Linked DNA regions of Homo sapiens: all the other regions are reported to be linked to region 1. Evidence: microRNA targets listed by miRTarBase, many of them from high-throughput screens and not tested one by one. Region 1 holds a microRNA gene; each other region holds the end of a gene's coding sequence.
What was found. Region 1 holds the annotated microRNA hsa-miR-548k (AAAAGUACUUGCGGAUUUUGCU, at 1,909-1,930, opposite strand). A microRNA usually pairs through its seed, bases 2 to 8, with sites in the 3' UTR of a target mRNA and lowers its output. Matches are read on the target gene's strand: a 7mer-m8 pairs with bases 2 to 8, a 7mer-A1 pairs with bases 2 to 7 and ends in A, and an 8mer does both.

Region 1 (4,153 bases):
GAAAAAAATGTGGGCTAAATAACCCTTTTTACCTATGGAATATTCAGCACCTAGAACGGTGCATGCCACATACAGACACTCAAAATACCTGAATACATTCATGTATACACTATATACATAAACATTATGTATACTGCATGAAAACAGTATGCATTTATGTATATGATAATTAAAAAGTACACATTGTTCTGTGCCTTATGTGATGGGTGATGTTAAGAGGTTTTTTTTTTTTTTTTGAGACAGAGTCTCACTCTGTCCCCCAGGCTGGAGTGCAGTGGTGCGATCACAGCTCATTGCAACCTCCACCTCCCAGGTTCAAGCGATTCTCCTGCCTCAGACTCCCGAGTAGCTGGGATTACAGCTGCGCACCACCACGCCCAGCTAATTTTTGTATTTTTAGTAGAGACAGGGTTTCACCATGTTGGCCAGGCTGGTCTCGAACTCCTGACCTCGTGATCTGCCCATCTCGGCCTCCCATTACAGGCATGAGCCACCGCACCCGGCAAGAGTTTTTAATTTTTGCTCACAGCACTAACTTTATAGCCCAAACCCATGCACTTGAAGTGGCTCTACTCTAACCAGTGGTTTCCACCCTAGGTCCATTCTTCCCTCCATCCCCAGCTCATTATCCACATAGCATGATCTTTTAAAAACTTGGGAGGCCAAGGAGGGAGGATCACCTGAGGTCAGGAGTTCAAGACCAGCCTGGGCAACGTGGTGAAACTCCCGTCTCTACTAAAGATTAGCCGGGCACGGTGGCGGGCGCCTGTAATCCCAGCTACTTGGGAGGCTGAGGCAGGAGAATCGCTTGAACCTGTGAGGCAGAGGTTGCAGTGAGCCGAGATCATGCCAGTGCACTACAGCTTGGGCAACAGTGTAAGACTCCATCTTAAATAAAGAAATACATAAATAAATAAAAATAAATAAATAACAACGCAGCTAAATCACATCATTCCCTCCCCTGAGGCCACGATGCACGCAAAGTACTGAAGCCCTAAGGTACTTAAAACAAAAACAAGCAAGTCTTCACCTCTGTCTGATCCCATCCCAACCTACCTAGCCAACCTTACCATGTTCACTCTTCCCTTCCCTCCAGGCCAAGTAACCATGGCCACAGACCCCAGCTTTGACTCAGCTAAATGCTAAGCTCTCCCTTGCTCTGGCCTTTGCTCAAGTAGCCCCACCGCCAAGAAAGCTCTCATACCTGGTTCCTCTTAGCCTTCATCCCTCAGCTCTAAGCCAATCCCCTCGAAAGCCTCACCTTTCTGGACCACAGTGTGCCTGGCAGCCCACCCCACTCAGTCGAGATCATGGATTTCTTCTGAACCACTTCATTCTATCTGGATGTGTCTCGCAACCTGCACCTGCTTTGAGCATGGGTATATTGTGAAAGTCTTCTGCAGGCAGAGACCCTGTCTCTACCACTGACTGCAGGAGCCTAGAACGGTAATATTCACACAGGGCTCAACAAAATAGGAGGAAGGACTCTGTCTCCTTGCTGACAATTAAAGGTGTAGGAACAGGAAGACAAGATGGCAAATTCAGTGTGTGCAAAAGAGAGATGTAAATGGCCAAATATTATTCTGAAAGGATATATTCAACTATTTCATACACCAAAGACGATGAAAACAAGTATGGTATTTTAAGAGGTGTTTTGCCAACTACTACTAAGAAACAGTCAGTAAAGCAGATGAGGGGGCACCATCTGAAGGGGCAGTCATTAGTATTTATTCTCAGGGAAGAGTCATTTAGCTAGTTTTACCTTATTCCAATTCTTCCTAATTTGTTCACTAAAGTTAAGCTTAGCAAGTACCTTGTTTGCAGCACTCAACAAATTACAGTTGTAGCCAATTTTGCATCATATTAGGTTGAAGCAAAAATAATTGCGGTTTTTGCCATTAAAAGTAAAGCAAAATCCGCAAGTACTTTTGCACCAACCTAACAGCAATACTTGAGAAAAGCTTCTGATTCTTTATACCTAAACCTGGACACTTCCAACATTTGGGGCCAGATAATTCTTTGTTGAGGGGGCTCCACTGCAGAATGTTTAGGAGCATCCCTGCCCTAGCTGTGACAACCACAAATACCTCTCAACACCACCAAACACCAGCGTCTCCTCTTTACTCTCCCCCACCCCCGTCCCCCTTCTCCCCGCAAGCTTGACCCTGGTATCTGCCACTCGGCTGTCATCCTCTAGTCCTACACAATTCCGCCAGGTTGTTCTTTTCTACTGCCCTCTGCCCTCGGATTCTAGCATCCTAGTTTGGGCTGTAACACTTCATGCCCACATTGCAGGAACTGCCTCCTAAATGGGCTGTCTTGCACCCTCTCGCCTCCTCAATCCATCCAGCACACCTTCCACTGCAACCAGCTGAAGCTCACCCATCACTTTGACAGGGAACACCCCTGACACAGGTAGACTTCTTTTTCACTAAGTTTGGATTTGATTTGAAGACCTCATTCCTTAGAATCTTCTGAGTTTTGTACCCCCTGCTTCAGGGATTGGCAGATTGGGAGAGAGACTGGCAAAATTTGGGACCTCACCTGCAATGAAAGGTGAACAGTCTCTCTTCTAGGTTTCACACAAAAGAGTTCTTCAAGCAAGAGGTCTTCTAAAAATCTCATTTGTTGCTTTCAAAAAGACTGTAAAAATCACTGCACTCCAGTTTAAAATAAAATCTCCATTTGAAAATGCAACTGAAACTTTAAAATGAAATTAGAGAGAAGCCCAAAGGCAATATTTGCTTTAAAAAAAAAAAAAAGCACTCGGTCAGTCGGTCAGGCATGATGGCTCATGCCTGTAATCCCAGCACTGTGGGAGGCTGAGGCGGGCAGATCACCTGAGGTCAGAAGTTCAAGACTAGCCTGACCAACATGGTGAAACCCCGTCTCTACTAAAAATACAAAAATCAGCCGGGCATGGTGATGCACGCCTATGGTCCCAGCTACTCAGGAGGCTGAGGCAAGAGAATCGCTTGAACCTGGGACATGGAGGTTGCAGTGAGCTGAGATCGCACCATTGCACTCCAGCCTGGGCGACAAGAGCAAAATTCCTTCTTAAAAAAAAAAAAAAAAAAAAAAAGCCAGGCACGGTGGCTCACGCCTGTAATCCCAGCACTTTGGGAGGCCAAGGCATGCAGTGGATCATGAGGTCAGGAGATCGCGACCATTCTGGCTAACATGGTGAAACCCTGTCTCTACTAAAAATACAAAACAAAAACTAGCTGGATGTAGTGGCGGGCACCTGTAGTCCCAGCTACTGGGGAGGCTGAGGCAGAAGAATGGTGTGAACCCAGGGGGTGGAGCTTGCAGTGAGCCGAGATCACGCCACTGCACTCCAGCCTGGGTGACAGAGCAAGACTCCATCTCAAAAAAAAAAAAAAAAAAAAAAAAAAAATCAGCACTCAAAAAGGAAACATACATGGGATCAAGTCATAGAATAAACATTAGGTAGCTGGGCACACTGGTTCATGCCTGTAGTGGTAGCTACTCAGGAAGCCAAGGCAGAAGGATGGCTTGAGCCCTGGAGTTGGAGATCAGCCTAGGCAACACAGCAAGACCCCATCTCCAAAGTAAGACTAAACACCACGCACACAACCTCTCCTACCTCCCTAGCCTCCTTCTTTGCCACTGCCAGATATGTCATCACAAACCCTCCCTCGGTCTGACACAGGGCATGGGGAAGAGTAGAGACTACAGCAGGGTGGAACAGCCCACACAGTGGCCAAGACGGGAATTGGAGGCCAAGGGCTGTGTCTCCCGCTGGGCAGGCCACTTGCTCTACTGTCTTTAAGTGGTTAAGTGACTGGGCAGGGGCAAATGGGGGATTCTGATTAGAAACTGGACAATGTCATGAGAAGCAGACTGGAAAAAAAAAAAAGAAACTGGACAAGGTAGCCTAAGCGAGGTGAGTGGGTTCTGTATGCTCCCTATCAAGTAATGATAACCAATGTCTCCAGACTCCGCATATGCTGCAGACAGAGAGAGCACGCCCGCTTCAGCTCCAGTTTCAGTGATACGCGGGGTGGCCTGTAGCCCGGCAACCCACCAAAAACTAGAAAAGGTGAGTATGACTTGAAAGTCTGCAGGCATCAAAGAGATGCCAAGGCAGCCACAAATGAAGGGACCAACATTCCAAACCAAAGAGAGGCCC
Region 2 (4,000 bases), not on the chromosome of region 1:
GGAAAACAAAGATTTGGTGTTTTCTACTTGGGATCACAAAGCAAAAGGACACTTCAACTGTCCAGAGGGTTATTCAGGTATCTTTTTCTGATACCAATACTTTATTTTCATATCTTCAAAGTATCTTCCCACATTATTAGCTATTATCTGCAATGACAACTTTTAAAAATCCGAATCCCAAATAAGCGTTTTCTCTCTAGACGAAAACCTCTTAACTATAATGAAAGTGTTCATTCTAGTTCAATCAGGTATTTTACCTCTAATCTTCCTCAGATTTTCTATTTTTTGGTAGTGTATAGATTATTTATACAGATTATTTAAAATTGGGACTTATACAGATTATTTAAAACTGGGATACATGCATCTAAAACACTGTAATATTTATAAGAAAGGAAGATAAACTTACGGGGAAATACAGTAACAGTAACTACATACGAGTCTGTACCCATTAAATTGCATATCTATCTCCTTTAGGAGGCTGGTGGTGGCATGATGAGTGTGGAGAAAACAACCTAAATGGTAAATATAACAAACCAAGAGCAAAATCTAAGCCAGAGAGGAGAAGAGGATTATCTTGGAAGTCTCAAAATGGAAGGTTATACTCTATAAAATCAACCAAAATGTTGATCCATCCAACAGATTCAGAAAGCTTTGAATGAACTGAGGCAAATTTAAAAGGCAATAATTTAAACATTAACCTCATTCCAAGTTAATGTGGTCTAATAATCTGGTATTAAATCCTTAAGAGAAAGCTTGAGAAATAGATTTTTTTTATCTTAAAGTCACTGTCTATTTAAGATTAAACATACAATCACATAACCTTAAAGAATACCGTTTACATTTCTCAATCAAAATTCTTATAATACTATTTGTTTTAAATTTTGTGATGTGGGAATCAATTTTAGATGGTCACAATCTAGATTATAATCAATAGGTGAACTTATTAAATAACTTTTCTAAATAAAAAATTTAGAGACTTTTATTTTAAAAGGCATCATATGAGCTAATATCACAACTTTCCCAGTTTAAAAAACTAGTACTCTTGTTAAAACTCTAAACTTGACTAAATACAGAGGACTGGTAATTGTACAGTTCTTAAATGTTGTAGTATTAATTTCAAAACTAAAAATCGTCAGCACAGAGTATGTGTAAAAATCTGTAATACAAATTTTTAAACTGATGCTTCATTTTGCTACAAAATAATTTGGAGTAAATGTTTGATATGATTTATTTATGAAACCTAATGAAGCAGAATTAAATACTGTATTAAAATAAGTTCGCTGTCTTTAAACAAATGGAGATGACTACTAAGTCACATTGACTTTAACATGAGGTATCACTATACCTTATTTGTTAAAATATATACTGTATACATTTTATATATTTTAACACTTAATACTATGAAAACAAATAATTGTAAAGGAATCTTGTCAGATTACAGTAAGAATGAACATATTTGTGGCATCGAGTTAAAGTTTATATTTCCCCTAAATATGCTGTGATTCTAATACATTCGTGTAGGTTTTCAAGTAGAAATAAACCTCGTAACAAGTTACTGAACGTTTAAACAGCCTGACAAGCATGTATATATGTTTAAAATTCAATAAACAAAGACCCAGTCCCTAAATTATAGAAATTTAAATTATTCTTGCATGTTTATCGACATCACAACAGATCCCTAAATCCCTAAATCCCTAAAGATTAGATACAAATTTTTTACCACAGTATCACTTGTCAGAATTTATTTTTAAATATGATTTTTTAAAACTGCCAGTAAGAAATTTTAAATTAAACCCATTTGTTAAAGGATATAGTGCCCAAGTTATATGGTGACCTACCTTTGTCAATACTTAGCATTATGTATTTCAAATTATCCAATATACATGTCATATATATTTTTATATGTCACATATATAAAAGATATGTATGATCTATGTGAATCCTAAGTAAATATTTTGTTCCAGAAAAGTACAAAATAATAAAGGTAAAAATAATCTATAATTTTCAGGACCACAGACTAAGCTGTCGAAATTAACGCTGATTTTTTTAGGGCCAGAATACCAAAATGGCTCCTCTCTTCCCCCAAAATTGGACAATTTCAAATGCAAAATAATTCATTATTTAATATATGAGTTGCTTCCTCTATTTGGTTTCCTTAAAAAAAAAAAAAACTCTCATAGGACATGTTTCATTTTGTTCCTTTCAGGAGTAGTAAATTAGACGTTTTCCCCATATAAAGCTTTTTTCTACCAGAAAGATACTTCTGGTAGAAGAAGAGAAAGGAGCTCTTTATGGTTCACACGACTGTCTCCTGTCCTAACTACTTTGCTTAAAGTGCTCAAATTCCATCACTACTCACAGTTGTCTAATCTAAGTCTAATCCCCTTTGATCTCTCAGACTACCTTCCCTTTTATCTCTCTACTACTTAATAATAAGAATATCTTTTTTTCAAACTTGACCTTCATTTTGCTTTCACAATACTATACTCTCCATGGATTATCCCTTATCTGAATCCATCTTTATAACCCTATTCCTTTCTCATATTTAGTACTGTGGGCCAATGGACAACCTTCAATCATCTTTTCTACACTGACCCTCAGACATTCTATCTGCTCTCACGGACTCCTTTATTTACCATGAATAAAGTTCCAAAATCTACATATTCATCCCAAGTCTCTTTCCAGTTCCCCTTCTTACATTGCCTATTTGCCATTTCTCCCTTCAATACCCTATACTTCACTCAAATTCAACATACCAAAAATAAAAGGCCAGGCACGGTGGCTCACACCTGTAATCCCAGGACTTTGGGAGGCTGAGGCAGGTGGATCACCTGAGGTCAGGAGTCTGACCAGCCTGACCAATATGGTGAAACCCCGTCTCTACCTAAAATACAAAAATTAGCCAGGCGTGGTGGCATGTGCCTACAGTCCCAGCTACTCAAGAGGCTGAGACAGGAGAATCGCTTGAACCCAGGAGGCGGAGGTTGCAGTGAGCTGAGATCACACCAATGCACTGGGTGACAGAACAAGACTGACTCAAAAAAAAATAAATAACAAATTCCCCAGCCCCTTACTGCTACTGCTATCCCTTTCTACCCACCTTTCCCTCCTTTATACTCTTTCACACCATCTTCCTCACTTCTTTATATCCATTAATATGACCAGCATGTTCCCAGTCACAGAAGCCTGGAACCCGGAAGACATCTCTGGCTTTTCACTCAACTTTGTAAACTACCTCTTTTGTATCATAAGCCACCAAGTTCAATACAATCTTCTCTTGAAACGTCTCTTAATCTTATAAGCTTTCTTCCCCAAAGACTGTCTTTAACTTCAGTGCTAGATTATATAAGTAGTCTCTTCTTTCCTCCTAATTTTACGTCCCTCTCCCTGTCAATCTTCCGAAAAGGAATTTGTAATGGCTGCATACTGCCTGGACCTGTGTCTTTCAAGCTCATCTACTGAAGAAGTGTAACAGCAGAGGATAATGAAAACAAATCCTTTTATTGTCTGGAGTTACAGGATAAAATAACTTACTATATGCACAAATTTCTTTCAGAATCTTATTGGGATCTTAGCTTAAATCTTAGAATTTTACTTTAAAATTGCATATGAATTGTGTTTTATACTTTATAAATCTATCTTCATGCCTGCAGTGGCTCACACCTGTAATCCAAGTATTTTGGGAGGCCGGGGCGGGAGTACTGCTTGAACCCAGGAGTCCAAGATCAGCCTGTGCAACACGGCAAAACTCCACCTCTACAAAAAATACAAAAATTAGCTGGGTGTGGTGGCAGGTGCCTGTAATCCCAACTACTTGGGAGGCTGAGGCAGGAGAATCGCTGGAGCCTGGGAAGTCAAGCCTGCAGCGAACCATGATCCTAACACTGCATTCTAGCCTGGGCAACAGAGTGAGACTCTGTCTCAAAAAAAATCTTCATATAAAAATATTTATTTCCCCCCAAGTATTTAAAAAGTGATGTTCCTAGAAGATGTGTCATGT
Region 3 (4,000 bases), not on the chromosome of region 1:
ATGATAAATTAACTAAAACAAGCCATGAAACAGCATCTGATAAGTGCTCTAACTCCGCCTTTTATTCCAGAAAAGTAACTGATGCCCTTACCAGAGTGAAGGTCCAGTGTAATAAGACAGAAAAAAGCCTTCTGCCCATGGTTTCTCTTCAGCTTTCTCTATATGGCAGCATTCCTTATAATAAACTTGCTCAATAGTTAAAATATAAGCAACATGAATCTAGAAGACAAGTTAAATAAGTATTTGGAGATTTTCTTTTAAAAAATAATTTAACATATCTCAGCACTCTTTAGCAGCTGGAGTACCAAAAAGAAGGCAATATTTCTCTCAATAAAAACAAAGAGAAGTTCGAGTAAAACCATACTTATGGTTTTTGTTCTAAAAGCAGCCAGTTTGGCTCAAGGCATAGCAGAAAGGGAATCCCTCTAAAGAGAGCTGCTATATTGGTGGCCACAAAAAAGGAAGACATCCAGTGGTAATAAATGCGGATCTCTTATTGCAAGAGAATAGTTTTAAAAATTCCTTTAAAAGGCAGTCAGTACTTTTAGTTAATGCTGTCTCTTACTGAGGTGTCCAACTCTACTTGTTTTTGTCCTGTAAATACAGCATTAGTTTTGACAGTGGCTAGCTAGCTACCCCCTCCAAATATATTTCAAAAGAATCAAGTATTTCCCACAAAATAATCACTGTATGTGCCTTTTCTGGGTGTACAATGTGCCACAGTAATACCCCAAAGAAGTAACTGGGAAGGTGAGAGGCAAGGAAGCACAGGTATTAATTTAGGGAATGAAACACTACCTGAGACAAAATTTGCCCAAAAGGGTAGGGGTTAAGTGACATGAACCCTCACCTCTTTACCCTTTCTCTCAAAAAGAAAATTTCTAGGTCTTTCAATAACTTCAATAAACCAAAATCCCTATGTATATATTTCATCCTAATCATGAAACTTGTATCTTTTGATATTTGGTTCAGGTTTAAGAAAGATAATATCACAGGAGGGAGGGGTAATCTGCTAATGTGATCTTTGGTAGAACGGGCTAAGAGCTATAAAATAATTTCAATCACAGGAGGCATTTCTTTTTCAATTCTCTGGCTTTAATATAAAACATCTAGCCAGGTGTGGTGGCAAGCGCCTGTAAACCCAGCTACTGGGGAGGCTGAGACAGGAGAATCGCTCAAACCTGCGAGGCAGAGGTTGCAGTGAGCCGAGATTGAGCCACTGCACTCCAGCCTGGGCAACAGAGCAAGACATCATCTCAAAACAACAACAACAACAACAAAAAATCTAATTAAATGCATGGTTAATTCAAGGCTCATCAATTATTCCCTCAGCTCCCTTAAAATCTAGTAACCATCTTCTGTAACAAAATTCTACAGTGTCAAGCACTAAATATATGTATGAATGTATCAGCAATAAGATGACAATCAAAGAATGCTGTGAAGATTGGCATCAAGATGTTAGCAGCATACTGCAGGACTAGGCTTAGAAGCCTACCTGCAGTTTATTTGTAAGGATTTTTCTTTTGGGGGCGGAGGGGAGAGAAAAGTAAATGTGCTAACTTAGGATACTTGCCCTTATAAAGAATTCCTTTGTATCCCATGTTCATCGTATTTAAGGACCTGATGTTTCTAATCACCACAAAATCTGCTACCCATATGAACATTTAGGAAAGTTTAGGTCTTCACAATACGGGTTCTGCCCACTTGAATTCTGACTTGAAAACAAACCAATTTATAATCAACTCCTGAAAGGGCCAAAATAAAAAATAATAGTTCTTCCTTCTAAGGGCATGTATTGGGGAACATGCCACAAGACCCTTTGGTAATTCATAAATCAGCCTCCTTATGCCAAATTTGGTTTCATAATAAACATTAAAGGAGAGTCCTGAATTTGACAATTATAAATAACTAAAATGTCAAACAATAATTGTTTGAATGGGGTAAAGTATTTCATTCTGTAAAATGCAAATTCTAACTGGACTCTCAGCAACCTGCATGGCAAACATAAGGAAATATGAGGAGGCTTCCAGCAGGGAAAGATAGAAGACTTTTTCCTTAGGAAAAAATAAATAAATAAAAAAATTAATAACCTGTATATAACTTGTCTTTTTTTTTTGGTATAATCAGTGCTTCATAAAGGCATCCTAATTTTTATATCTTTAAAGACAACCTACCATGAAATAAGAAGAATCCATAATTATAATTCTAAAAACCATGTAATCAACTTGTGTCCATGAACTCACGCATAGCAGCATCCTCTACTCAGGGACACATTATGTTGCTATGAATCCTTTTAAGAATTCTTTGAGTTTTTCTTCCTTTCTACTTCTACCTCATTATATCTACACCTTTCTTAACTACCTTGCAGTCAAAAGCCAAACTACCTGGGATGCTGCTCCTCTAGTTTGTCTTCAGCTAAGGATAGAGGCAAAGAATGAGGGAAGGGGAGGAAAAAGGGAGCAGGGATACGAGAAACAGAAAGGAAGAAAAAAGAATCCTTTTATTTTCCACCCTCTCTTCGCCCATTTTTTTTCTTTTCCCTTCACTGTACATCTAATTCTTTTGACCCACTTCAATTTTCATCATAGTAGGTAGAGCCACATCTTGAGAAACCTTAAAACTATAGATTTACTACAAAAAAGATGAGCTAATACAAAGTCTAAAGTAAACTAAAAGAGGGGTTGATTTACATCTGGCACAACTTAGTCTTTGTTCCAATCATTTTAGAAGTCTCAATTTAACTCCAGGCTAGACTCCAGTTTGTTCTGGGCCTCTCAGGAATTATGTTTTGTCATTTACATTGTATCAGACAGACTACCTCTCAAAAAATGTATATCTTAAATCTTACGGATGTGAAACAGGTAGGGAAGAAATAAGTATAGACTGTATTAGCTCACAGGATTCACACTATAAAGTACACTGACTCAAATTTTCTCTAATCATTCATACTCGCACATTCACTCAAGCATACATACTAGACATAAAAATTGTGCAAGATCAAGCATCAGCTTTCTATTTTAAAAGCCTTAATTTAAAAAAACTTAGATAGGCTCACTGCAGTTCCTTTAAAGGAATATTCAGTACTACAGTACTGCTTTAAGAAAAAATTCACAACTCAGTGTTAAGAACACAGTAGGTAACTGCTGCTTGACAATTACTTAACATTACTGAGAGCATCCAGTGCCAGCTTATGGATATCAACAATAAGGAAGAACCACTGGACAACATAAAGAAATAATCTGTAAATGATGTCACCAAACCTAACAAATTTGTTAGTATTTACCAAGACATGATATTATTCATCCTTGCTTCATGATCCATGAAATAATTAAGATTTTTTTAGGCTACATACTGAAGAGCAACACCTGCTCTCCCGCACAAAAAAGGGTTGCCCACATGGATGCTCTAAAACCCCTCAATGTATAGCTGAGAGGTCTTGTCCTACTCAGTGCCAAATGTATGCAACGCAGTCACTGCTTGGGCAATGGCTGCACATTAGTAGGATTAAATAAATGTATAAAGTACCTTCTTAAAATGGTAAGGGGGTAGTCCTGCATTCATATGTGGAATAACCCAAGAAATGGAAGAGGAGAAAAAGGAAACAGTCCTTAGGTTACTGATTAAAGCAAGGTTTGATACAGATATCCCCTCTTGTAGGCACTCAGCGGGTAGAATGTAGCCACAACAAACTTCCCATCAAACATCCTTCCAGTCAGTAATTTCTGCGCAGCTTTGGAATCACCAGCATTTGCATACTCAACAAAGACCTGAAAGAAGACAGAGAAAAAAACATTTCATTTCCACCAAGATTGTTTTAGACCAGTGCTTTACCACCTTTAATATATATACATCAACTGGAGATGTTATTAAAATGCAGATTTTGCTTCCTTAGGTCTGAGATGTCGCCTGAGTTTCTGTTCTAAACAAACTTCCAGGTGATGCCAATGCTGCTGGTCTATGAACTATACTTCAGGACAGCAAGGTTTAGAATACTTCCTCA

Region 2: the mRNA of ANGPTL3 is a reported target of hsa-miR-548k. The part of its 3' UTR that is shown has no 7-base or 8-base seed match.
Region 3: the mRNA of UHMK1 is a reported target of hsa-miR-548k. Seed matches in the 3' UTR shown: 8mer at 3,518-3,525, 8mer at 2,911-2,918, 7mer-A1 at 2,661-2,667 and 7mer-A1 at 1,942-1,948.

The regions. Positions count from the first base shown.
Region 1 is chr11:70,281,763-70,285,915 of GRCh38, reverse strand. MIR548K (microRNA 548k) reads right to left here and starts at 1,961; the gene lies at 1,846-1,961. All of the region lies in intron 2 of PPFIA1 (PPFI scaffold protein A1), which reads right to left.
Region 2 is chr1:62,604,159-62,608,158 of GRCh38, forward strand. ANGPTL3 (angiopoietin like 3) reads left to right here. Exons shown (of 7, transcript NM_014495.4): 6 at 1-77; 7 at 475-2,155. The coding sequence ends at 659. The region is part of intron 14 of DOCK7 (dedicator of cytokinesis 7); the gene reads right to left. Among named protein-coding and RNA genes, the nearest start is that of ANGPTL3, 8.6 kb to the left of the region's middle.
Region 3 is chr1:162,522,171-162,526,170 of GRCh38, reverse strand. UHMK1 (U2AF homology motif kinase 1) reads right to left here. Exons shown (of 8, transcript NM_175866.5): 8 at 1-3,767. The coding sequence ends at 3,621. Among named protein-coding and RNA genes, the nearest start is that of UHMK1, 26 kb to the right of the region's middle.